Linked DNA regions of Homo sapiens. The protein of the gene in region 2 interacts with the protein of the main gene of each other region in a biochemical or structural test. Each region holds a gene or a part of one and is shown on either strand. Other genes may lie near its edges. The genes, in order: PARD3, PTPRZ1, MPP7, LNX2, SNTA1, CARD11 and LCK.

Region 1 (3,500 bases), on a different chromosome or scaffold from region 2:
CGGCATGTGCCTCTAGTCACAGCACTTGGAAGGCTGACATGGGGTGTTGCGGGCTACGGTGAGCTATGACTGCACCACTGCACTGTAGCCTGGGCAACAAAGAAAGGCCCTGTCTCAAAAAAAAAAAAAAAAAAAAAAAAAAAAAGAAAGAAAAAGAAAAGAGAGGAAAAGAAAAGAAAAAAAAGAAAGGGAAGTAATGCAATAATACAAGAAAACAAAAGACAAGAGTCAATGGCCTGGCTTCTCAGCAACCTACTATAAACTCCTGGCAGCCTCAAACAAATTGGTCCCTCCCCACATCAAATACTGAGATTGACGTGCACTACCTCTAAAGTCCTCCTTGAGGGCTGGACTTATACAGCAAATGGGGCAGTCAAAATGGTCAAATCCTTACTATTGTTCTGCATTTGATATTAATGTCCTGAAGCCATTTTCTTTCACAATCAAAAATTTTACTACAGTAACTGCTATCTTCTTCTCATAGACATAGTCTTATTCTCTGCACTTTTACATTTTAATTTCTACAGAGCAAAATAAACCTGAGACATATAAGAAATACAATTTGAAATATGTTAAAAGGTAAGTAACTTTAAAAAATCTATCAGTTCTTTCACAAAATAATTAGATAAGACTCAGGGTGCTTTGGGTTAGTAGGTTGACTTTTAAAATAAATTCCATTTCTACCCTTGTGTGTTGCTGCTAAGAAAAGAAATTCCACAAAACAAAAACAGGATAGGTCGTACCTTTCTTAAGCTGGATATTAAGCCTCTTGCCTATTTTTTTGGTGTTATAACCACTGCTTACAGTCGTACTAAATACATTCTGAGGTGCCGAGGCTGGAGCGGATGGTGGTTTTCCCGAGGGGTGTGCGCTATGAGGTAGTCTTGAGTGAGAGTCTATCTGCTCAGGCGGGTGGTTCAGTCGGGGTGCTCTCTGCACCGTGTGAAGCCCTGCACTGTTCACACTCCTGTTGTCAATATACTGGCTGTCAGGGCTAAAACGGCTTGAATAGTAATTGTTCTTCTCACTTTGGGATAGTTGTTCATACTGCTCTTTATTTGCTGCAGGAACCACATGGAACCAAATGATGGGTGTACGCATGGCTTGGCGAAACATATGTTGTGCTCTGGGTTTGAGAAAGAATAGAAAATTAGCAAATTAAGACTGGCAGACTAGAAGATATTATGAGCTTAATTAAGTTTACTAATTAAGCAATAAGAACTGACAGGCTGTTGAAATTGAAAAGCAAAATTCTAATAACCCATTTATCAATCAAGTTTGCAGCTCTGATCTATCAATAGCTGTTTCTTCAAATATAAATTTCTCATTCTCTCAATAAAAATAGAAAAATTATCTACAACTACAGATAAAATTCTGTCCTCTCAACTGTAAATCATTAAACATGTTTTAAGTATAACAAGTATTATAATTTCAATAATAGAAACCAAATGGAACATTCTCTCTACAACATTGTCTAATACAACTTGTAGACATTACAAAATACTTCAATTTAAGTTTTCAAAGAAAGACAGAGCTTTATAATTATATTTAGAATATTGGATTGGGTTAGATGTGTATTTAAAATTTTTAAAATACACACACACACACACACACACTTAGAAGACTATAGAAAGTAACTATTAATTATTTATTAAGTTGGTATATGTAAAAATCTCAAGAACAGCAATCCAGGCTCAATAATTCAAAATGTTGACAGCTGTGGGTCACAGTGCACCCATACAACCAGCCTGGGAAGCAGCTCTTTCTCATGCTGGTTCCCTGGTCAGGACCTCAAGTTCTTAAGAGTTCTGTTTGCTCCTGCCTTGTTTTATAAGAACTGGCCAACTGTTATGTTTTTCATTGACTAAGGGCCTGAATCAAGATAAAGTGTATCTGAATACAACCCAATATTGTATCTGAATACAACCCAAGATAAAGTGTATCTGAATACAACCTCAAGCAGATACAAACAGCTTTATCTGCTTGTTTGTATCTAGAGAAACTGTGTGCAGCAAAGGTGGACGGGTGAGTTAAAGTATGATAAAAATGGGCACACTGTCAATTTTCCAAAAGGAGAGGAACCAGCAAAATTGTAAAGTTGAAATGGGGGCCATAATACTTAAGAAGAGCTATATCCATCAGAGGACATTTTGAAATATAGTCTAATGGTATTAATTACTGAGTATGTTTAAATTTTTAAAAGCTAATGGCAGAAAATATTCCTCTCCAGTATACAGACTGAGATCACAGACATGTTTGAAGCATTTCAACTGACTGCACTCTGTCATGCCTAATGCAAGTAAGAACAGAAGTGCAGCGAGCACACACTTACTGTTCAAATCTTCTATTTCGAAGGTCGCCATCATTAATCCTGACAATGCAATCATTCTCACGAAAAAGATTTTCATGTTCAGCTTTACCACCTTTCTCCAATCGTTTTACTAATAACCCCAGGGTTCTGGAACATTAAGAATGCAAATGATTACACATGTAATATCTCCACCATGCACACTGCCTTACCACTTTAATGCTGTTATTATATTTACAAAGATGTCCTTACAAAGGAGCATGTTAAAATGACTATTCATACATTTTTAAATGACAGACAAAAACCACAACGTTAAAATGACATGTAAAAATGCATCCCTTCCATAAATGTAAAAAATCAGTTTCTGGCTGGTCAGTATTATGTTTCTAGAACAAGCTATAACACTCTCTCTGTTTACAAATGCCCCAAACAGAGCCCGCCTAATGGTTGAGTGGGTATTGCAGTGTGGAGGATGGATAAGCATGTATTTTTGAATGGCTTGGGCAATTTTCTGTTTTAAGCCAGCTGGCACGCTAGCTTAAAAGACGACTGCAACTCCCATCTTTCTGTGAAAGTAAAGGTAATGAGGAAAAGCTAACCTCATTGCACTGCAGGTTTGAGAATGATAATAGGAAAGATTTCAGGAATAAAGGAGTTTCCATGCTTTGCATTTGAATTTGATAGTGCTTAGTATTGTGAATTTCAAAACCTGTCAGGTCTCCCAAAAGTAAGTCATTTATTGTCAATATTCCCATTTGGAAAAACAAATGACCCAACAGAAAAACGTCAGTGAGAGGTTCAAATAATGCCAATCACCATTCATCTCTTCCACATATGTACTCACTCAGGTTGAAAGAAAAGTGTGAATGACCTTTGAGAGACCCCCTACTTGCTCTAGAACACTAACTTCATAACTGACAGGACATTCTATACAGACTGGGACAAATAAGAAATACTTCTTTAAATCACAGTATAAGCAACAGGGGTCTTAACCTAGCTCTGATTGCTGTTATTTTTATTTTTTTAGTCTTATTTTATTCTTTTTTGAGATGGAGTTTCGTTCTTGTCGTCCAGGCTGTAGTGCAATAGCATGATCTTGGTTCATTGCAACCTCCACCACCTGGGTTCAAGCGATTCTCCTGCCTCAGCCTCCTGAGTAGCTGGGATCACAGGCATGCGCCACCATGCCCAG
Region 2 (3,500 bases):
ATAACTTTCCAGACAAAAAATTTATCAGAATACATGAACCAAAACAAATTTTTCTTGACCCACTGAACAGGTGTATCTTATGGGAAAAACTACAGTGGCTTTCCTGTAAGGAGGCTTAACTATGAGTCATAGAGGAGAGGTAGATATTTTAAGAGCTTTTAAGGAATAATTTCTTCCAATTAATGAAGGAATTCAGGATCTTTGAATTAAGTGAATTATAGTGCTGCAAGGTACACTAAGTTCAAATGTTTAAGTATTATTATTAAATATGTAATGAATCAGATTCTGTACTTCTCAGTCACATCTTACTGCTTTAAGAGCCACATTAACAATAAATTATACCCAACTCCTCTGGAAGAATTAACTTCTTAATTTATGCTGGTTATAGAGTCTGAAATTCAATATGTTGTGACTCTCAGTTTGATCTATTTATCCTCTGAAAACAAATTGTAACCACATATAAAAAATATTCATGCCTTTTTCCCAAATAATAACTAGCCTCTATTCAGAAAATTAATTCCTTTTCATTGCAGAGTTGCAATTTTCTTTATTTCATTTCTCTCTCCTTTTTACGTATACTGTGGTTGCTTCCAGTCAGGGAAGTTTGCCAGGAGAAATCATTTCATTGATGAATTCATTTCTACTCTCATGTCTGCACTAGAGATTCAAGATCTTGCTTAAAATTTTATGTTGTGGGAATTTTGCTTCTGGCAAAAATTCAGGTTTTTCTGGAAGCATAAGCTGCGTTTTCTCATTCCCTTTAACTCCGAAAAGATTTGAGTACTGTCTAAAGTGAGAGATTTGCTTGACCACCCATTTGCTGACCGTTCAGACTGTTGCATGGAAATGGAACCCCCTCAGTCAGGACCAGAAGATCTCAAAGGAAGGCATAATTAAGAAGATGAGCCTGTGTTTCATTTTCAGTTACCATCTGCTCAAGTGTCTACTAGGTGCAGTTTCAGCACTGAGCATTTTATGTACATTTTCTCATTTCATTCTCCTCAAAACCCTTTGATATTGGTGTTTTCATCTTACACCTTTTACAAATGAGGGAACCCGGCACAGAGAACTCAGATAAGTTGCCTAACATCACAAATCCTGATTCAGCCTGTGTATTCCTTCCCAATCCAGAGCCTGAGGCTTTTCCTCTTTTCATTCCCAGGATCAATTTGCTGTTTGGCATTCACTAGCTTGCTTTCATGTGATGTGATGGTACATTTCACAGTCCCATTTGCTTTTCTGAGGATCCCTTTCATGATTTTGCCCATGTACTCTTGTATTACTTTTTTATCCTTTTTTGAAAATTAAGGCATAATTTACATTTTTACCATCTTGAAAGTTTTCACCGATGCATATGGTCATGTAGCAATCACTGTGATCCAGATACAGAATCGTTCCAGCCATGCTACTTTAACTACTCATTCACTAGATGTTCACTAAGTGCCCGACATCTGCAAGGCACCATGCTAGGCGCTGATAATTCAGCTATGCATCAACATACAGAGACTTAAACTCATGATGCTCACAACCCAGTTAATCTGATTCAATCCCACAATGAAAACTTTCTTTAAATCTTGTTTTAAAGATACTTTTTCTGTTCACAACTAGTCGAAAATAAGTCTTTTCCAAATATCTCTTAATGTGTTGAATATGTTAACTCTCAAATACTTTAAAATGCTTCCTGCTCCATTAAGAATTCCAATGGTAAAAGTCAGAGCCAATTTAAACAAGAGAGAGATATGTGTGTATATACATATATAAATGTATATATATGCATATACATAAAAGTGTATATATATATATGTGTTTGTGTATATATATATAAAATATATACATTTAAATTGTATTTCAACTTTTAGTGTCTTATTGAGATTAATTCCTAGAAGTAACTTCAGATTACAAAAGGAAACCAATTTTTCTCTGTGTTTAAAGAAATTAAAGAAATTAAAGAAAGAAAAAATATCATATAGCACAATCTTAAAACACTTGTATTTTAGAAATGTCCTGTTTAATACCATAGCCACTAGGCAGATGTAGCTATGTAATTTAAAATTTATTAAAATAAAACAATTCAGTTCCCTAATCACACCATCCACATTTCAAGTGCTCAGTAATCTGTGTGGCTAGTGGCAATCACATGGGACAGTGCAGACATGGAACATCTCCATCTGGCAGTGTTGTTTTGGAACAACAACAAAAAACGCTGGTAAAATAATGATTGATAGAACTCATGAGGAGTCATCAACTCAACTAGAAAAATTTCTAAAGTCATTGAAATTGTTTGAAGTGTTCGTGCATGTGAGTTAGTTATGGTTTGTGTTGTGTTAGCCTGCAAACATCCTAGAAACATGATGGGGCCTTTGGTAGAGCAGTAATAGGTGAAAAGAGTTCAGTGGCCACTTTGTAGCCTTTATGGACTGAGGTTGAACAGAAGAGATTAACTGCTGGTTCGGGAGTGAGTGCTCTGCTCCCATAGTACATTTTCCATAATTTGTTCTGTTATCCACTGTATTGTTTTTCAATTTATCTGTCTCCTTGACTCGACCACATTATTTGAGGGTAAAGAATCCATTCTTACATTCATCATTCATTCATTGTTAAATTCATTCATTGAAGAATTCAATGAAAAATTCAGTCAACATTGCATTCTTGAACTTAGCACTTACAGTAGGTGCCAATAAATCTTTAATGTATAAGGTTATAGAAAGATTGTACCATGAAGCTTCTTAGAAAAAAAAATAGTTGTTTGTTGTTGAGACTGGCCAATTTTCACTGGTCTTTCCCTCTTTTGATTATGATCTCAGTCCGGGAGTAAGGTCAGCATTCACCTTGACCTGTCCATCTTTAATGTCACTTCTGGTACGCGAACTTCACTTTCACTGATTCTCCCAGAAATACACGTAAGCATATAGGCATCCTCTATGAGGTTGGAGCTGTCATGAATGTGATTAATGCCTGTACAAGCATTACATAGATCCAGACACTATCTGTGCATGGAAAATAAAGTTCCTGTGATTGATACTGAGTGTGTACTTACAGAAGCAGTCTTGAGTGAGCTTTTAATTCTAGAGGAGTTGGCACCAATGAGTTTTGGATACATCCCAGGGGGCCAGAACATCAAGTCAGCTAGTGTGCCACTTTGTATGTGTACAAGTGCATGCGCCTGTGCTGCTCTGGTGTTGGGGAGGAGAGGGCAATGAGGGATGCAGGATGGTCAGTAATGAGTAAATAAAGTATCTTGAGCCCATGAACACTGTATTTTCAGTCAGCCAAAAGCTATCATATTGGTTTAAGTCTTCTCTAGTCAAGAAGGCCGTAAGAGATAGTGACACAAAACAGTTTTGAAAACCAGGCAAATGATGGGAAGTGCAGTTTTATCATGTGGATGTACGTGCTTTTGGAGTTTGTCAATAGTTTTATCATTAATCCTAGAGAGGATGTGCTACACAAGTTTAACTCTGCACATAGCAAATATTTGAACTGAGTTGAATTCAAATGGA
Region 3 (3,500 bases), on a different chromosome or scaffold from region 2:
ATCCATTTTGGGTATAGAACTGGCAATGTTAGTGGAGATTAAAGACTAGCTGGTACGACTGCATTTTGCAAGATATTTTGAAGACAACTTTGGACTTTGAAAATGCAGGATAGGAATCTAAGTGAGAAAGTCTTTCAGTGGTTGGGGTGTGTGTGTGTTCACTTCAGTTGCACTGAACTGTGGGTGGGGAGGAGAGCAATAGTAAATTGTTTCTTACCAGAACACTGCCAGTTCTTAGGGGATTTGGTGGAGATTTGGGAGAGAGAAAATAAATAGGATTCAGCCCTTCTAGGAAGGTCATTCTTGGCAGTGCCTTCAGCCCTTAGGAGAGCGTGGGCATGGAAAAGGTGGGTGGTTGTAAGTAGCCAGGCAGATTAAAAGGCTGCTTCCTAGAGTTTTCTTTACCTTTGATGACCTTAATCAGGTCATTAAGCATTTTAAGACAGGTTTATAGCTCTCCTGTGGTCCAAGCTTGGACTAAGTACTCCTTAATCTTCAATTTTATGTTTTAAATTTTTGGAATAAGTAGAAACCTGAAATTTATAAAATTAATGACTTGAGTATGCGAGTGAATAGCTTCAGAGAGTTATTTGGCTTATGGAAGATTTCAGATTATGGTAGGTGCTTGAATATACTTATTTCTCATACTCTTTCTTCCATCCCTTTAACAACAAAAAAAGGCCTTATTAGAAATAGGCAAACTTGAATACACATAGAGCTGTACTGCTCAAATTGAGTACTTGAGTTGGGGAGAAAAGTCTCCCGGTCTAGATATAGCTTTGAAAAGAGAAGGATCAGGTAGGATGCCGTACACGGCAGGTGTGTGCAGGGACAGGGATAACGTTAACCCCTTTTGCTGTGAATATTGTCAGAGGGTCTGATGTGTAATTAGGCATTCCTTAGCTTCACTCCTGATAAAAACACACTCTTGGACAGTTTCTCTGTATGTGCACTTAAAGCAGTTTGAATCTTGTTAATCAAATATTTCTCGGGGTTGTAACTTCTTTTTTTGGCATTGGGAAGACTGTTGAAGTCATGTTGTAAAAATTTGGAGTTGAGCCTGGGATCAAAATTTGGAGTTATGGCCCAAGATTTATCAAGCTTCTGCTGATATTCAAAATATTGTTTTTTTCTCTTCCTATTATGGCTTCTGATTACTTCTGAAGAGTGAGTTCAGACCTCTGTGCTCTAACGCTCATCAGAGTACCCTTTTTGTACATAGTATAATCAGGATAGAGATTAGGCATTTTGTCAAGTTTGGGAGAAAGAAGTTGAGCAGTGAGGAAATGAACTAACACTGTTTTCGTTTCTTCATAGTCATTTTAAATAGGATACAAATTTTATATTTTAGAAGTTTCAAAATGGTAGTAATTTCACCTTTCACATTATGCTTAGTATGAAAAATTTCTACCAGTGGTTCTCAAACTTTAGCATACCTTGGGATCACACGGAGGGCTTGTGAAACCTTAGGCAGCTGCCTTCCAGCCCCAGAATTTCTGATCAGTCGGTCTGGGAGGGGAGGTCCTGGCGATTTGCATTTCTAATAAGTTCTAAGGCCATGTGCTACAGCCACTGCAGGGGCCAGCCACTCTAGGGGGAAACGTAAGTGTAGTGGTTAACACTTTGAAAGACCTGGGTTTGAATCTCTGCTCTGCTGCTTTCTAGTACTTTGACTTTAGGCAAGTTTCTTAACCTCTGTTGTTCCGTCTCTAAAGTGGAAATAATATAGTATTTTGTTGTGAATGTAAGTGGGCTCCAATGTGTAGAAGCTCAGGGAACAGGGCCTTGCAGATTGCAAGCATGCAATAAATGTTTTCTTTTATCCATAAAAACAGTACGTATATAAAATAAATAGGATCCTGCATCTTATACAATTGAAGCAAAGACAGAAAATTTAATACTTAACCTCATTTCCTGGCACTGTGCTGGGGAAAAAATATGATTACTCAATTACTTTTTAAGGAGTGAAGGAAAAGTTTGTGGATCCTAGTAATTTTCCAGAAACATTTTTTAGAGGCATAGCACATTCATATCGATGCTGCCTCCTCCCTCTTCCCCTTCAAAAAGTTTGCATTCTTTAATCACCGTATGTTGGACTCTCACAATAACCCTTATAGTTTACATTTTATATAACAGGTATTTTGAAGGTTGCTTCTGGGAGCTGAATGACAGGAAGTACCTGAAAGTCATCTTTAGAACACACTGTCGCCTGTACTATGACAACTTTGTATTTGATGACCTTGAACGCAGTTCTTCTCGAGACGGAGTCTTGCTCTGTCCCCCAGGCTGGAGTGCAGTGGTGTGATCTCAGCTCACTGCAGGTTCCACCTCCCGGCTTCACGCCATTCTCCTGCCTCAGCCTCCAGTTTAAAACATATTTAAACTGGACTACAGGCACCCGGCTAATTTTTTTGTATTTTTAGTAGAGACAGGGTTTCACTGTGTTAGCCAGGATTGTCTGGATCTCCTGATCTCATGATCCGCCCGCCTCGGCCTCCCAAAGTGCTGGTATTACAGGCGTGAGCCACCACGCCCAGCCCTTGAACGCAATTCTTTGGGATCTCATCTCTCGGCTTGCTGAATGCCTGGTTCATTTTCTTTCTGCAGACCTGCGGGATCTCACCTCTGGCTATCCTTTCATTAGTGAAACCCTCTTTCCATCACTTTCTGTCACTATCACTGTCTTACTTGTTAGCTGTTAACACTCTCTTATCATTATCTTATTTGTTTCCTTTTTATTGTTTCCTTCACTAGGACATAAACCCTATGAGGGTAAGGGCTTGATCTTTTGCTACTCGGTCGCTAGGATGGGATGCAGTTCCTGGTATGTAGAGACTGAATACCTGCTGGTTGGGTGAAGGGACCTGTGACGCGGAGCTGCCCCGCTCCGCTCCCTCCCCAGCTCAGGGGCTCGGACTGGAGTTAGCACTCACTTCATGGCACACTGTCATGATTGGTCCGTGTAGAGTCTCCCACCTTATTTTATTGTATCTTTCCCCTTCATCACCTATCCCCATTCATGTTCTTCCTTGCCCCCAGGGGACCCTCTCTCTGGCATATGCATAATTCCCTTAAGTACGACCAGATTGTTATCTCATTGACACTTTCACCAGCTGTTGCTCCCTGCATTCTTGCTGGCATGTGGCATTTTCTGACCTTATAATTTTTTCCAATCTGATGCAACAGATGGAGCAATCCAGCACAAAGTGATATGTTATTGTTCTTATTTGCAGCTATCTGATTACTAATGCAGTGGAATATCCTATCGTATACTGTGTGTGTTTTTCCTCGGTTGAGTTCGCCATTTATATATCCTTTGCCTCTTTTTCTGTTAGCTTTTCATATCTGTTTCCCATTTTTCTGCCCTAATTTATAGCAGTTTTCTTCTTTTTTCAGTCTCTCGTTGGATTTTAAATGGTATACGCATCTTTTGTTTTTCACCTGTCAGATTTTTTCTTTGAAATCTTTCATTAAACGGAATCTTTAATTTTGTTATGATC
Region 4 (3,500 bases), on a different chromosome or scaffold from region 2:
TCATTAAACTAGATGTAAGATTGCCATTATTGGAGTTATTAGTATACAGGTTTCCATAAACAGTAATAATGCAGTGGAATTTCTACAATGTAGACTTTATAACTGAATTAATTCCCAAAAATATGGTTGATAATTTCAGATAATTACAATCTTTTGAGGTCTAAAGATTCAGTAGTGTTAATGAACCATTCTCTAAAATAGAAACAAGCCCACTGATGAAATGTATTAGTAAAAAAACTTAAACAAATCTGTTATATTCAAAGAAATATAAATAAAAACATTTGTAACAATACTGGGCTAGTAGCAAAAAATAAGTGTACACTTACATTTCAGCTAAAAAGCCCAGAAGTGGGAGAGTCAAAGAACACTCAGTGGGCTGCAGAAAAGGACTATCTGCCCTTCCTGGTCCTGACCACCAAAGTGTCAAGATGTCTGGGAGGATGAACCTGGGAAATGAGCTGTAAGAGTCGCTCTCTGCAAAATCAAGTCAGGAGCTAGGATGTAAATAATACAAGGGGTCCTACAAGTTGTGCCAGCCTGTGCAGCTAAAGTACTAATATCATAAAATGCAGCTAGGATAACTAAATAGCTAGCTATGACAGGATCAGAAATCTGATTTTATATGAGCTGGATTAGTTATGTTCCTGTATTCGTCTATTACATCTAAGTATTTGGTAAAAAAAACACTGTTTGAAAGCTCAGTCTGTCTCAGCCATGCCTAGGGGTAATGAAGGAAAGGTTTTAGGCTTGGTGTTAATTATTTTCAGGAATAATACACCATGAAAAGCAGCATACAAGCGGGAGTGGAAATCAAACCCAAGAATCCCTAGTAGGGTCAATCCTGGCTGCCTTTGTAGACTCCCATAGCCCCAAGTCTAGAGATTTCTTTTCAACAACTAAAAATCCTAACCAAGTTTTTCTTTTAATAAAGGAGATGGCTATTCCCAACAGCATCTTATATTCAAATTCACTCTTTTATTGACTCAGCAAATATTTTCTGAGCACTTACTACAAGCTATGAGAAATCTGTATCATAATCTGTACCATTAGGGTGGTTGCAATTACCTTAGATCATGCCTACATACGTAAAATGTTCAAACAATTCTCTGTAACTCATCACGTGCCAAGTGATGAAGAGAAAAGTGATGAATGCCAATAATAACTAATGTAGGAGGAATCAGTATGGGGGAGAATGGCTGAACAAAAGCTTTAAGGATGAAGGTGAACAAACTGGCTCATGAGATGAGGACAGGCTGCAATGTGGGAATAAGGTGTTTGCAGGGAAGGAAGAAGACTGCTATGTCTGGCTCTTCCACTAGATTGTATATTCCACGAGGACAGGTCAGTATTTTGCTCTGAAATGTACCACCAGCAACTAGTATAGTGCCTAGAATGTTGTGAGAAATGAATGAGCTGGTGTGCCTGAAATGAAGAATTGAGATTAACAAGACAGGTTGTAGAAGAGACCGTGGAGGACCCTGACTATTAGATTAATCAGTCTGGACTTGACCTCCTAGTTGAACCTTTGCAAGGCAAGCAGGGTTACTGATGTATTAACCTGGCAGTGATTGTTTCAGATTTAAGGGAGGAGAGTTGGGAGGCAGAAGTATATGATGGGGTATTCTACTAAATTAGATATGAAGAAGAGAAGTCCTAGACTCAAGAAGTGGCAGGAAAATGGAAGTAGGGGGTAGATATCAACAGGTCATGGTGAAGGACCGAACCACAAATCCAAGGAGAGAGAGGAGTCCCTGCGCTTGGGTTGACAGGAGACATTTTTTCTTGTTCATGAATATTTCCTCTCTCTCCTAGAAGTTATCCGTTTTTAAGCTTCAATTATTATCACCTTTGTATGATGAAAATGGTCCAGGCCGGTATTAACATCAACTCCGGGATTGTAGAACTCTTACCATCCTCCTCCCCTCATCTCAACTTGCCCTCTAATAAAATATCTTGTCCCATGCTAGTTATTTCTGGAGAATACCTGTTTCTTCTTAAAGATCATCTTCTGAAAGGGAAAACAGTAAGGGGAGCGAAGGGGATTATTGAAAATGCAGAGTTAGAGTGTTTGCTGAGGAGAGTGCATTAGGGAGTTGATAGGAGATGACTGCAAGATTTCTGAACTCTATCTTATAATCTGTGGTATAAATTATGAGTGCTGCATGGTTCCTTCTTTTCTAGATTTTAGTAGTCTGTATAGAAAAGGATAAATCCAACAATGAAGGTAATGAATGGGAAAACTGGGTATAAAATAATACCAATGAGATGATAATTTCAACATGGATGAAGGTGACCCTTGAACAGTCATTCAAGAAGTCCAAGCAGGAAGAGGCTAGTCAGCCCAAGGAAGAGTCTAGCTAGCTCAGCAAGCCTGAGATCATGTGCCAAGCCACATCGCATGCAGGAATGAAAATTAAGATAGGAAGAAAAAATACTCTGTGTATATGGGAAAATACCACAAATTACACATAAATTCTGATGTTTTGCATATAGAAACAGTAAAACTAATCTATATATAATTTAGGTTCCAAAACAGCACAATTTTCTAAGGTTTAAGTGTTAAGAATGGAACAAAAAGGCACAAGTTAACAGAATAATTAAAACTGATACCTGAAGAATCTGGTCTCCAGCAAGAAGTCTCCCGTCTCTGGCAATGACCCCATCCCGATAGACCTCCTGGATGACAATGTTAATCAAAGGTGTTTCGTTGCCACCCACAATGCTGATTCCTAACTGAATGTAAGGATTGGACCGATGAATTTCAATCGTGGTGATTTCTCCTTCTGGTAAACTAAGTGGCTGTTGTGTGGCTGCCAAGTTAAAAATGAGACAGACAAAAACAGATGTTAAAAAAATAAACAAACCCAACAATTTATATTCTGATTATCTTCAGGTAAGTATGTCACATTAATACATGATTAACAGCTAAGCAGTATCACTGGATAAGAAACAAAATGACAAAATATCTGTTGTTAAGATTATCTAAAAATTTTCTCTACTAAAACTGATCAGTAAATAATAAATAGCTACTATGTATCAGATCACTAGGGACGACACAGTGATCTGATTAAGAAATATGAAAAGAAAGTCATTCTGTCCTCATTGATGAGAGAAAATTTGGACCACGAAACAACTGTACATAATGAGAGGCAGTACAAAGGAAACACTAGCTCTGTGGCATAGAAACAGCACAGGTGTTGAGAGAGTAGCCACATCAAGCTCGTAAGAAGAGGTGGGTCTTGAACGGAGACGTAGGAAATGAAGAAGGCGCATAGTTGCGGCAAGGAAAATTCAAATTTGTAGTAGAGCTTGGAAAAAGAAAATCATTTTTAAAAGGAAATATCAAGGGCCCACTACCATGATATGCCCAAGATCCATGACTACGGGCCTTCTGTTAACTTCCTAGTGGGTAACAGAGCAGTGGCTGGTACCAGAGGTGTATAACGGTGAGATGCATGGTCTTGGAGTCAAATACAAACCCAGTCATTTACTGGTTGTAT
Region 5 (3,500 bases), on a different chromosome or scaffold from region 2:
GAAAAAAAAAAAAATTAACCAGGTGTGGTGGCATGCATCTGTAGTCCCAGCCACTCAGGAGGTTGAGGTGGGAGGATTGTTTGAGCCCCGGGGGGTGGAGGGTGCATTGAGCCAAGATCATACTACTGTACTCCAGCCTGGGTGATAGAGCAAGACCCTGTCTCGAAAAAAAAAAAAAACAAGAAAAAAAAATGCATCCATGGCATTTAAATAGATATACCTAAAATATAAAATAAAACTTTACATTTTATTTTCTTTATTTAAATTTTATTTTATTTTATATCTGGGTCAACCAAGGACCGAGAACCTATTTGCTTCTGTGGCCTCTTGGACACTCCTTTAGGGAAACCAAGGCAACCCACCAGGATTTGGGCCTGGGACTCAACTCAGCAGCTTCTCTGGCCGTGTTATTCTCCATCAGCCCCCGCCACCTCCCTGTGCCTGTTCTGGGCCATAAGCCAGAGACACATTCCTCAGGCCCCCACGGGGCTTCCAGAGCTGACAGAGTTTGAGGAAAGGGCTGAGCAAAGCAGAAACCTCTTGAGAGACATGGCACAAGATGGTCATGGGACAACCTCAGCAGGAGGCGTGTAACAACTGATGGGGAAACCGAGGCCCACAGAGGGCAAGGGTCCCACCCAAGACCACACTGTGAGGGAACAGTGGAGAAAGCCATTCAACCAAGGTTCCTCCACAAAACTCCTCTCTGATCCTGGCTGGAAGGATTTGATGTCCTACTCTATAAAAGCCAAGGCCTCTGGGCGTGGTGGCTCATGCCTGTAATCTCAGCACTTTGGGAGACTGAGGTGGGTGGATCACCTAAGGCCAGGAGTTCAAGACTAGCCTGGCCAACATGGCAAAACCCTGTCTCTACAAAAATATAAAAATTAGCTGGGCATGGTGACGCACACCTGTAATCCCAGCTACTTGGGAGGCTGAGGCAGGAGGATCACTTGAACCCAGGAGGCAGAGGTTGCGATGAACCAAGATCATGCCACTGTATTCCAGCCTGGACAACAGAGCAAGATTCCATCTCAAAAAAAAAATAAAGTAAAATAAAAGCCAAGGCTTCTCCCAAAGGAGGATGGGTCTTGGGGTTTTAAGGCCCAGGCACTAAAAGAACCTGAAGTCAAGAGCTCTCCAGGCCCCACAGGAAAGAATCTGACCTGCCCCTTCCCCAGTCCGCACCCCTCTCTCCCTGTGTCACTCAGGTGCTGGCACACTCTGCCATGTACATTTTTGCCCTAGTCGCAACAACCCAGAAAGGCAGGAGCTACATCCCTGTTTTACAAATGAGGAAACTAAGGATCAGGGAAATGAAGTGACTTGTCCAGGGCTACACAGCTAGTGACTGGAAGACAGAAAATGCAAATCAGGTCTGCTTGGCTCTATGCCAACTCTCCCTCCACCACCCCACACTGTCTTCAGGCAGGTCCCCAAATTCTGTTTCTGTTTTCAGTCCTGCCCACCTCCCAGCCCCCAGTGCTGGGATGGGGCCTTCTGAGGCCTGGGGGAGGTAGAGAAGCAGTGGAACACCTCCACCCAGCCCCTCTGAACCCTGGAACGTCAGTGCTTACCCTCCAGCACCACCTCCTTGCCTGTCTTCTTGAGGACCTGCACCGCCTCATCATGGGTAGCAGAGGACAAGTCTTCCCCATTCACAGACAGGATGGCATCCCCCACAAAAAGGGCCTCTGTCTGGTCAGCTGCCAATCCCTTGAAGATCTTGGAAATGAGAATAGGCATCTTGTTCTCCCGGCCGCCTGCACAGGTACAGAAGGAGGACAAGACTTAGGCAGATACTCCAACACTTGGGAGTCACATCAAGACACAATTATTTCTGAAGGCTTCCCTTGGTGCCTAGCCCAGTGCTGGAAAAGGCAATGGGAGAATAAAGGGAATCTGAGAAAAATCTTGGAAGTTTGGGACACTAGTAACACTAATAATAAATCATTTTTGATTAGGTCCGGTGGCTCATGCCTGTAATCCCAGCACCTTAGAAGGCTGAGGTGGGCAGGTCACCTGAGGTCAGGAGTTCAGGATCAGCCTGGGCAACATGGGAAAACCCCGCCTCTACTAAAAATACAAAAATTAGCCAGGCACCTGTGGTCTCAGCTACTAGGGAAGCTGAAGTAGGAGGATCACTTGAGCCCAGGAGGTCGAGGCTGCAGTGAGCTGAGATTGTGCCACTGCACTCCAGCTTGGGTGGCAGAAGGAGACCCTGTCTCAATAAATTAATTAATTAAATAAATCATTTTCAAAATTCATAATGCTATAGTTTGATCCCTGGATCTTTTGATTAAGTGCTTTGGGTGTTCACCAGTGTTTGTGCAACTTACAAAGTGCTTCAATCACTTTTTCTTAAATGTTTTCGATTTTCTCATGTAACCCATAAATATATATGCCTACTATGTACGCACAAAAATTAAAAATGAAAATAACCGGACAAAGTGGCTCACACCTGTAATCCCAACACTTTGGGAGGCCAAGGTGGTCGGATCACTTGAGACCAGTAGTTTGAGACCAGCCTGGCCAACATAGCGAAATCCTGCCTCTACTAAAAACACAAAAAAGGGCCAGGTGCGGTGGCTTATGCCTGTAATCCCAGCACTTTGGGAGGCCAAGGCTGCCAGGTGGATCACCTAAGGTCAGGAGTTCGAGACCAGCCTGGCCAACATAGTGAAACCCTGTCCCTACCAAAAATACAAAAAATTAACTGGGCGTGGTAGCGGATGCCTGTAATCCCAGCTACTCGGGAGGCTGAGGCAGGAGAATCACTTGGACCCAGGAGGCGGAGGTTGCAGTGAGCTGAGATCACGCCATTGCTCTCTAGCCTGGGCAACAAAAGTGAAACTCTGCTCAAAAAAGTAAATAAATACATAATAAAAAAATAAACAAATAAAAAAATATGGCTGGGCGTGGTGGCTCACGCCTGTAATCCCAGCACTTTGGGAGGCCAAGATGGGCAGATCACCTGAGGTTAGGGGTTCAAGACCAGCCTGGCCAACATGGCAAAACCCCATCTCTTCTAAAAGTACAAACATTAGCCGGGCATGGGGGCGCATGCCTGTAATCCCAGTTACTCGGGAGGCTGAGTCAGGAGAATTGCTTGAACCGGGAGGCTGAGGTTGCAATGAGCCAAGATTGCACCATTGCACTCCAGCCTGGGCAATAAGAGCGAAACTCCATCTCAAAAAATAAATAAATAAATAAATAAATACAAACACAAAAAATTAGCTGGGCCTGGTGGCACATGCCTGTAGTCCCAGCTACTCAGGAGGCTGAGGCAGCAGAATTGCTTGAACCCAGGAGGTGGAGGTTGCAGTGAGCCAAGATCACACCACTGCACTCCAGCATGGGCGACAGAACAAGACTCCATCTCAAAATAAAACAAAAATACAAAAATTAGCCAGGCATGGCGGTGTGTGCCTATAATTCCAGCTACTCAGGAGGCTGAGGCACGAGAACTGCTTGAACCCAGGAGGTGGAGATTGCAGTGA
Region 6 (3,500 bases), about 120 Mb from region 2:
CAGCAAGGAAGTGGCCAGGTCAAGCTTGCCTTTTTTTTTTTTGAGATGGAGTCTTGCTCTGTCACCAGGCTGGAGTGCAGTGGCGTGATCTCGGCTCACTGCAACCTCCGCCTCCTGGGCTCAAGCGATTCTCCTGCCTCAGCCTCCCGAGTAGCTGGGACTATGGGCACGCACCACCACGCCTGGCTAATTTTTTTGTATTTTTAGTAGAGACAGGGTTTCACCATGCTGGTCAGGCTGGTCTTGAACTCCTGACCTCGTGATCCACCTGCCTCGACATCCCAAAGTGCTGAGATTACAGGCGTGAACCCTCGCACCTGGCGCCCTGCATCTTCTTATTTATGTTTTTAATTTTAATTTTTTAAATTTTTAAAAATTTTCGCTCTGTTGCCCAGACTGGTCTTGAACTCCTGCCCTAAAGCGATCCTCCCACCTCAGCCTCCCAAAATGCTGAGATTACAGGCATGAGCCACTGTGCCCAGCCCTACCCTGCATCTTCTAACTTCAAAATGAGTGGCTTCCACTCATCACTAAACAGACACAAACACAACAGTAAAAGATGTGGATTATGCTGGGCGTGGGAGGGAACTTCCGGCTTCAAATATATGAAGAGCCAACCGGGCACAGTGGCAAACGGCTGTAATTCCAGCTCTTTGGGAGGCTGAGGCGGGAGGATCGCTTGAGGATAGGAGTTTAAGACCAGCCTGGGAAACAGTGAGACCTCGTCTGTACAAAAAAATTACAAAATTAGTCAGGAATTGTGGTGTGTGCCTTTAGTTCCGCTACCCAGGAGGCTGAAGTGGGAGGACTGCTTGAGCCCAGGAGTTTGAGGCTGCAGTGAGCTGTGATAGTGCCACTGCATTCCAGCCTGGGCGACAGAGTGAGACCCTGTCTCAAAAGCAAAACAAAACTAAACAAAGGACAAGGAGCCATTCATTGCACAGGGAAGCGGCGACTGGTCACAGCCCTCAGTGGGTGCCAGGGGGCACCTGGCTTCTGGTTTGGGGCCCCACAGGGAGGTGGCGACTGGTCACAGCCCTCAGTGGGTGCCAGGGGGCACCTGGCTTCAGGTGTGGGTCTCCACGGGGAGGTGGGGACTGGCCACAGCCCTCAGTGGGCACCAGGGCCCACCTGGCTTCAGGCGTGGGGTCCTGCCCGTCCCGCCCCACCTGGTCCAGGTTGTTGCTGTCCTTGGAGAGGCGCCGCAGCTTGCTCTCCAGGTTGACGATGCAGGCCTCCCGCCGCACCATCTCGATCCTCATCTCGTCGTTCTTCTCCTCCAGCTCGCGGATCTGCTTCCTGTACTTGTCCTTTTCGATTAAGCACTGCGAGTACTGTGTCTGAGCTTCATCTCGGGAGTGGAAGGCCTGCCAGGGAGAAGCGGGACGAAGGCTGCTTTGGGGGTTGCACCCCAGCCAAATCCAGCTGGGCCCAGGGACAGGCATCATCCCAACCCAGGGGCCAGCCACATCGTCTGTGGCTCTCGTCTGCAGTCTGACCCCTGGGCGTGTCAGTCACTACCTTCTTCATTAACGCGATCACAGAGCCGATGGTCCGACCCTTGCTAGTGGCAGGCTCTGTGTTGAGAGCTTTGATGCAGTGTCCCTGGAAGGCCACAGCCTGTCCCTATGAGGCGGTGCTACCGTAATTATCCCCATTTTACAGATGAGGGCACTGAGGTCAGGGGTGGCAGCTTGCCTATGGGCATACACCTTATGAATGACAGGGCTGGATCTGAACCCATCCTCTCACCCGAGAGAACACACAACATTTAAGAACCATGCTTGGTCGTGGGAGCTGCTGGAGCCCAGCTCGGATCCCCCTGCTACCCAAACGCCTGTGACTTCCAAAAAAGCCTTTTGGAATTCATCTTTTAGAATTCATCTTTGGAACAGAAATGGGAAAGATGGATTCAGGAGTGATCCCTGCATTGTCAGTGATGTTGCACTGGACAAAACACTCTGAAGGAGCCGGTGGTCTGGGGTGCGGGCCCCGCTGTGCAGCCTCGCCGCCCTGCACGCTGCAGGTGGTGCCTGTACCTGGTCCCGCTCCCGCTCCACCTCCTCCAGCTGCAGCATGACCGTGTTCATGCGGTGCTTGTACATTTCACAGTCCTTTCCCAGGGTCGAGCACTTGAGCTCCAGGTCCTCCTTCTCCTCCAGGTACTGTGAACCACACAGAGAAATCAATATGCGCATCGAGCAATCAATAGGTCAGGACTGAAAGCTGTTCTCTGCTCGTGCCTTCCCGCCAGCTGGCTGGAGCTGGCCTGTCCCTCCCTAAGCTGGCATGGTCAGGACATGGCCTGCCCTTCTGGGAACCGACTATCTGACTGTTGGGGCTCAAGGTAGGAGACCAATCAACCCAGCATTGTTGTGAACCCACTACAGACCAGGTAACATAGGGGAGGACAATGTGATCTCAGTCAGGAGGGGGACACAGGTGCTAAGCTGGTGCAATAGCTTGTACATGCCCAAGGGTGGCCGGCACATCTGGGATCCTGCAATCCGCAAGGTGTGGGTGAGGCTCTGAGACTCACACCTTGGCAGGTATGTGGGTTCCCCCAATCCCAAGCCCTCACCCTCCCCTCTGCCCACATTGCTCCCACCCCCAGGCCCTCATCTGGTTGATAAACTGCAGCTTCTGCCAGGGGCTGAATACTGGGAGGTACAGGGGATTTATGCCAGGGGTCTGATCTAGTCCCTGGAAAGGAGTGTGGGGTCAGGGAGGTCCTGCTGACACACACCACTGCCCCCTGGTGTGAAGGGGGCCGGCCGAGGGCACCGCTGGGCGGGCGATCCCCACTCCCACCTTGTCTCGCAGCTCCTCTGCCTGGCGGGCCTCCTCCTGCAGGTTGTAGATCCTGTTGACCAGCTCCTGCCTGTCCTCCAGGGCCTCCTTGCGGTCGTGTTCCAAGATGTCCAGGATGGCCTTGTCTGAGTCTGGCAGGCTGCGCTTCCCGGCCTGGGTGGGAGGGAGGAGGTTTCAGAGGGTCAGGGTCGGGGTGGGGAGCCAGGTGGTCCTGGAGGGCAGGGGACAGAAGAACCAGCAACAGATACGGACAGAGCAGAAGGTTTTGTGCCTGGAAGGTAGAGGCAAGAAGAGATGTATGTCCCCTGGGGTCTCTAAGAAGCTTAGCATTTAAGAAGTTTATTGCCTGGAAAGAAGCAGAAAACTGGCTTTTGCTTGGGCGTATCCTGGGCCTTTTGTTCTCCCTGGCGCTTATCGGAGCGCAGAGAAGCAGTTGCTGCACCCGAAACACTTTTTAGATGCTGCCCCTGAAATATCAAGGAATCTGTTCTGGAGAAGCTGGGTTCATCCTCGGCTCTGAAACAGAGCCTCATATACCAGGCAGCCACTCCTGGGGGGACTGTTCTGGAGGGAGCAGGAGGATGCATGTTTTTTTTCTTGCCCTGTAGATATGTTTTGGGATGTCACTCCTCAGCAACTTCCTCCTCTGTGCCCACAAGTGACTCGGCGATGACAAGTGTGGGGAGGCA
Region 7 (3,500 bases), on a different chromosome or scaffold from region 2:
AAGGGATTATCAGGTATATTCACGTTACTGGTTGGGGGACTTCTACTAAAATACCAATTAGAATAATTGCTCTATATCCCTTATTTATAGCGATACTTGACTAGCAGAATCAGTTCTATGTTCAAGACACTCCCAATTTGTGAAAATAAATCCATTTTGTTTGCATCCAAAATAATGCTTTTTTTTTTGTTCTCTCTGTGTCGAGAGGCTACAGAGTTCATTCAAAAAAGGTATTAAGCCAGGTGTGGTGGCTTGCACCTATAATCACAGCATTTTGGGAGGCCAAAGCAAGGGGACTGCTTGAGCCCAGGAGCTCAAGACCAGCCTGGGGAACATAGGCAGACCCCGTCTCTACAAAAAATAAAAAAATTAACTGGGCTTGGTGGTGTGTACCTGTGGTCCCAGCTACTCAGGAGGCTGAGGTGGGAGGATCACTTGAGCCCAGGTGGTTGAGGCTGCAGTGAGCCATGATCATGCCACCGCACTCCAGCCTGGGCAACAGAGTGAGATCCCATCTCTAAAGGAAAAAAAAAAAAAAGAGAGAGAGCGGAATTAAAGCCAGGTGCAGTGGCTCCTGCCTGTAATCCCAGCTATTCGGGAGGCTGAGGTGGGAGGATTACTTGAGGCCAGAAGTTTCAGGTTGCAGTGAGCTACAATCATGTGCTGTACTACTCCAGCCTGGGTGACAGAGTGAGATGTGAGACTCCATCTCTTTAAAAAAAAAAAAAAAAACCAGGCTGGGCGCAGTGGCTCACACCTGTAATCCCAGCACTTTGGGAGGCGGAGGCAGGTGGATCACAACATCAGAAGTTCGAGACCAGCCTGACCAACATAGTGAAACTAAAATTAGTTTCTACTAAAAAACACGTCTCTACTAAAAATACAAAAAATTAGCTAGGCATGGTGGCGGGTGCCTGTAATCCCAGCTACTCGGGAGGCTGAGGCAGGAGAATCGCTTGAACCTGGGAGGTGGAGGTTGCAGTGAGCTGAGATCACGTCACTGCACTCCAGCCTGGGCAACAGTGCGAGACTCCGTCTCAAAAAAAAAAAAAAAAAAAACCCAGCCTGTGTGACGTGGTGAGACCCTGTCCCTACTAAAAATACAAAAATTATCCAGGCGTGGTGTTGCCCACCCATAGTGCCAGCTACTCAGGAGGCTGAGGTAGGAGGATCACCTGAGCTATGGGAGGTCGAGGCTGCAGTGAGCCATGATTGTGTCACTGCACTCCAGTCTGGGCCACAGAGTGAGATACCATCTCAAAAAAAAAAAAAGTATTATGTATTTAAACAAATATGAAAAAGGAGGTAGCCCAGGACACATCCCTGATTTACCCACTAGAAATTAATTACTGACGGGGCACGGTAGCCCATGCCTGTAATCCCAGCACTTTAAGGGGCTGAGGCAGTGGATTGCTTAAGCTCAGGAGTTTGAGACTAGCCTGAGCAACATGGCAAAACCCTGTCTCTACAAAAATTAAAAAAATACAAAAATTACCCGGGCCCTCTCATTCACAGCTTCTCAGGTAAAAAAAAAAAAAGAAAAAGAAAAAGAAAAAAAAAATAGCTGGAGGCTGGGTGCGGTGGCTCATGCCACACCTGTAATCCCACACTTTGGGAGGCCAATGCAGGCAGATCACTTGAGGCCAAGAGTTCTAGACTACCCTGGCCAACATGGTGAAACCCCATCTCTACTAAAAATACAAACATTAGCCAGGTGTGGTGGCACACGCCTGTAGTCCCAGCTCCTCGGGAGGCTGAGGTAGGATAATTGCTTGAACCTGGGAGGCAGAGGTTGCAGTGAGCCGAGATTGCACCACTGCACTCCAGCCTGGGCGATAGAGTGAGACTTCATCTAAAAAAATAAAAATAATAATAATAATAATAATGATAATAATAATAGCCAGGCGTGGTGGCACATGCCTGTTGTCCCAGTTACTCAGGAGGCTGAGGTGGGAGGATTGCTTGAGCCCGGGAGGTCGAGGCTTCAGTGAGCTGTGATTTTGCCACTGCACTCCAGTGGCACAAGAGAGCAAGAGAGCAAGAGGGCAAGACCCTGTCTCAAAATAAAATAAAATAAAGAAAGAAATTATTTGCCATGCCTGCTAGCCCTGATTCTTGATATTGCTTGATATTGTCATGAGGGTTCTATGTGGGCATGAATAGCTAAGGCTCTTTATTGAACATGGGCAGCTTTGTCATTAATCAAGTCTGGGTCGGGGCAAAGGCGAAGAAAATGTTTTAAATGATTCATTTTTTTTTAATTTTATTTTTATTTTTATTTTATTTTATTTTATTTTTGAGACAGAGTCTTGCTCTGTCGCCACGCTGGAGTGCAGTCCCGGGTTTAAGCAATTCTCCTGCCTCAGCCTTCCGAGTAGCTGGGACTACAGGTGTGCACCACCACGTTCAGCTAATTTTTTGTATTTTTAGTAGAGATGAGGTTTCGCCATGTTGGCCAGAATGGTCTCGATCTCTTGACCTCATGATCCACCCACCTCAGCCTCCCAAAGTGTTGGGGTTACAGGTGTGAACCACTGCGCCTGGCCTTTTATTTTTATTTTTACAGAGACAAAGTCTCACTATGTTGCCCAGGCTGGTCTTGAACTTCTGAGCTCAAGTGATTTTCCCATCTCGGCCCTAGGATTACAGGCGTGAGCCTCCAGCCCTGGCTATTCTAAATGATTTCTGACAGATTTTGCCATGAGGTGGTCCAGAGTACAACAATGGTCTGCAGTAGAATAGTCTGCTTGTTCTTTTTTCTTTTTTACTTTTTGTGCTCTACATGTTCAGAGAAACTGAACTAAAGAAATGATCCCTAAAGGAAGTATAGTCTTGTCTGCTGTTTTTTGTGTTGCTTTGTTTGTTTTGTTTTGTTTGAGAGAGGTTCTTGCTCTTTCCCCCAGGCTAGAGTACAGTGGTATGATATTGGCTCACTGCAACCTCAACCTCCTGGGCTCAGCGATCCTCCTACCTTAACCTCCTGAGTAGCTAGGACTACAGGCGTGCACCACCACACCTGGTTAATTTTTGTATTTTTTGTAGAGATGAGTTCTCACCATGTTGCCCAGGTTGGTCTTGAACTCCTGGCCTCGAGTGATCCTTCCACTTTGGCCTTCCAAAATGTTGAGATTACTGGCGTGAGCCATTGCATCCGACCACCTGCCTGTTCTTGATGTAAAGCATTGGCCCAAGAAACTCAGCCACGAAGCTGGCACACATTTTGGACAAAATGTTCAATAAATCAATAGGTCTATAGTTGGAGGAGAAAAAATGTTAACTTAAAAATTTTTTTTAATTTAATTTAATTAATTTTTTCTTTTTTTGAGACAGGGTCCCCTGTCGCCCAGACTGGTGTGCAGTGGTATAATCACGGCTCACTGCAGCCTTGACTTCCTGGGCTCAGTGATCCTCCCACTTCAGCCTCCTGGGTAGCTAGGACTACAGGCAAATGCCATCACGCCATCATGCTTGGCTAATTTTTTTTTTTTTTTTTTTTTTTT

Evidence for each region.
Region 1: the proteins of PTPRZ1 (region 2) and PARD3 interact in a test that uses a peptide from one of them, tested with the Homo sapiens proteins (one large-scale study listed by IntAct).
Region 3: the proteins of PTPRZ1 (region 2) and MPP7 interact in a test that uses a peptide from one of them, tested with the Homo sapiens proteins (one large-scale study listed by IntAct).
Region 4: the proteins of PTPRZ1 (region 2) and LNX2 interact in a test that uses a peptide from one of them, tested with the Homo sapiens proteins (one large-scale study listed by IntAct).
Region 5: the proteins of PTPRZ1 (region 2) and SNTA1 interact in a test that uses a peptide from one of them, tested with the Homo sapiens proteins (one large-scale study listed by IntAct).
Region 6: the proteins of PTPRZ1 (region 2) and CARD11 interact in a test that uses a peptide from one of them, tested with the Homo sapiens proteins (one large-scale study listed by IntAct).
Region 7: of the proteins of PTPRZ1 (region 2) and LCK, one has a biochemical effect on the other in vitro, tested with the Homo sapiens proteins (one large-scale study listed by IntAct).

What each region holds. Positions count from the first base shown.
Region 1 is NC_000010.11:34,381,797-34,385,296, forward strand, and holds part of PARD3 (partitioning defective 3 homolog), read right to left. Parts: intron 2,459-3,500; coding exon 2,333-2,458; intron 1,127-2,332; coding exon 744-1,126; intron 1-743. UniProt on the Homo sapiens protein: Adapter protein involved in asymmetrical cell division and cell polarization processes. Seems to play a central role in the formation of epithelial tight junctions. Targets the phosphatase PTEN to cell junctions.
Region 2 is NC_000007.14:121,876,161-121,879,660, forward strand, and holds part of PTPRZ1 (receptor-type tyrosine-protein phosphatase zeta isoform 1 precursor), read left to right. Parts: intron 1-3,500. UniProt on the Homo sapiens protein: Protein tyrosine phosphatase that negatively regulates oligodendrocyte precursor proliferation in the embryonic spinal cord. Required for normal differentiation of the precursor cells into mature, fully myelinating oligodendrocytes.
Region 3 is NC_000010.11:28,293,065-28,296,564, reverse strand, and holds part of MPP7 (MAGUK p55 subfamily member 7), read left to right. Parts: intron 1-3,500. UniProt on the Homo sapiens protein: Acts as an important adapter that promotes epithelial cell polarity and tight junction formation via its interaction with DLG1. Involved in the assembly of protein complexes at sites of cell-cell contact.
Region 4 is NC_000013.11:27,565,030-27,568,529, forward strand, and holds part of LNX2 (ligand of Numb protein X 2), read right to left. Parts: intron 2,811-3,500; coding exon 2,611-2,810; intron 1-2,610.
Region 5 is NC_000020.11:33,437,264-33,440,763, forward strand, and holds part of SNTA1 (alpha-1-syntrophin), read right to left. Parts: intron 1,764-3,500; coding exon 1,578-1,763; intron 1-1,577. UniProt on the Homo sapiens protein: Adapter protein that binds to and probably organizes the subcellular localization of a variety of membrane proteins. May link various receptors to the actin cytoskeleton and the extracellular matrix via the dystrophin glycoprotein complex.
Region 6 is NC_000007.14:2,935,868-2,939,367, forward strand, and holds part of CARD11 (caspase recruitment domain-containing protein 11), read right to left. Parts: intron 2,965-3,500; coding exon 2,812-2,964; intron 2,166-2,811; coding exon 2,040-2,165; intron 1,368-2,039; coding exon 1,170-1,367; intron 1-1,169. UniProt on the Homo sapiens protein: Adapter protein that plays a key role in adaptive immune response by transducing the activation of NF-kappa-B downstream of T-cell receptor (TCR) and B-cell receptor (BCR) engagement.
Region 7 is NC_000001.11:32,257,765-32,261,264, forward strand, and holds part of LCK (tyrosine-protein kinase Lck), read left to right. Parts: intron 1-3,500. UniProt on the Homo sapiens protein: Non-receptor tyrosine-protein kinase that plays an essential role in the selection and maturation of developing T-cells in the thymus and in the function of mature T-cells. Plays a key role in T-cell antigen receptor (TCR)-linked signal transduction pathways.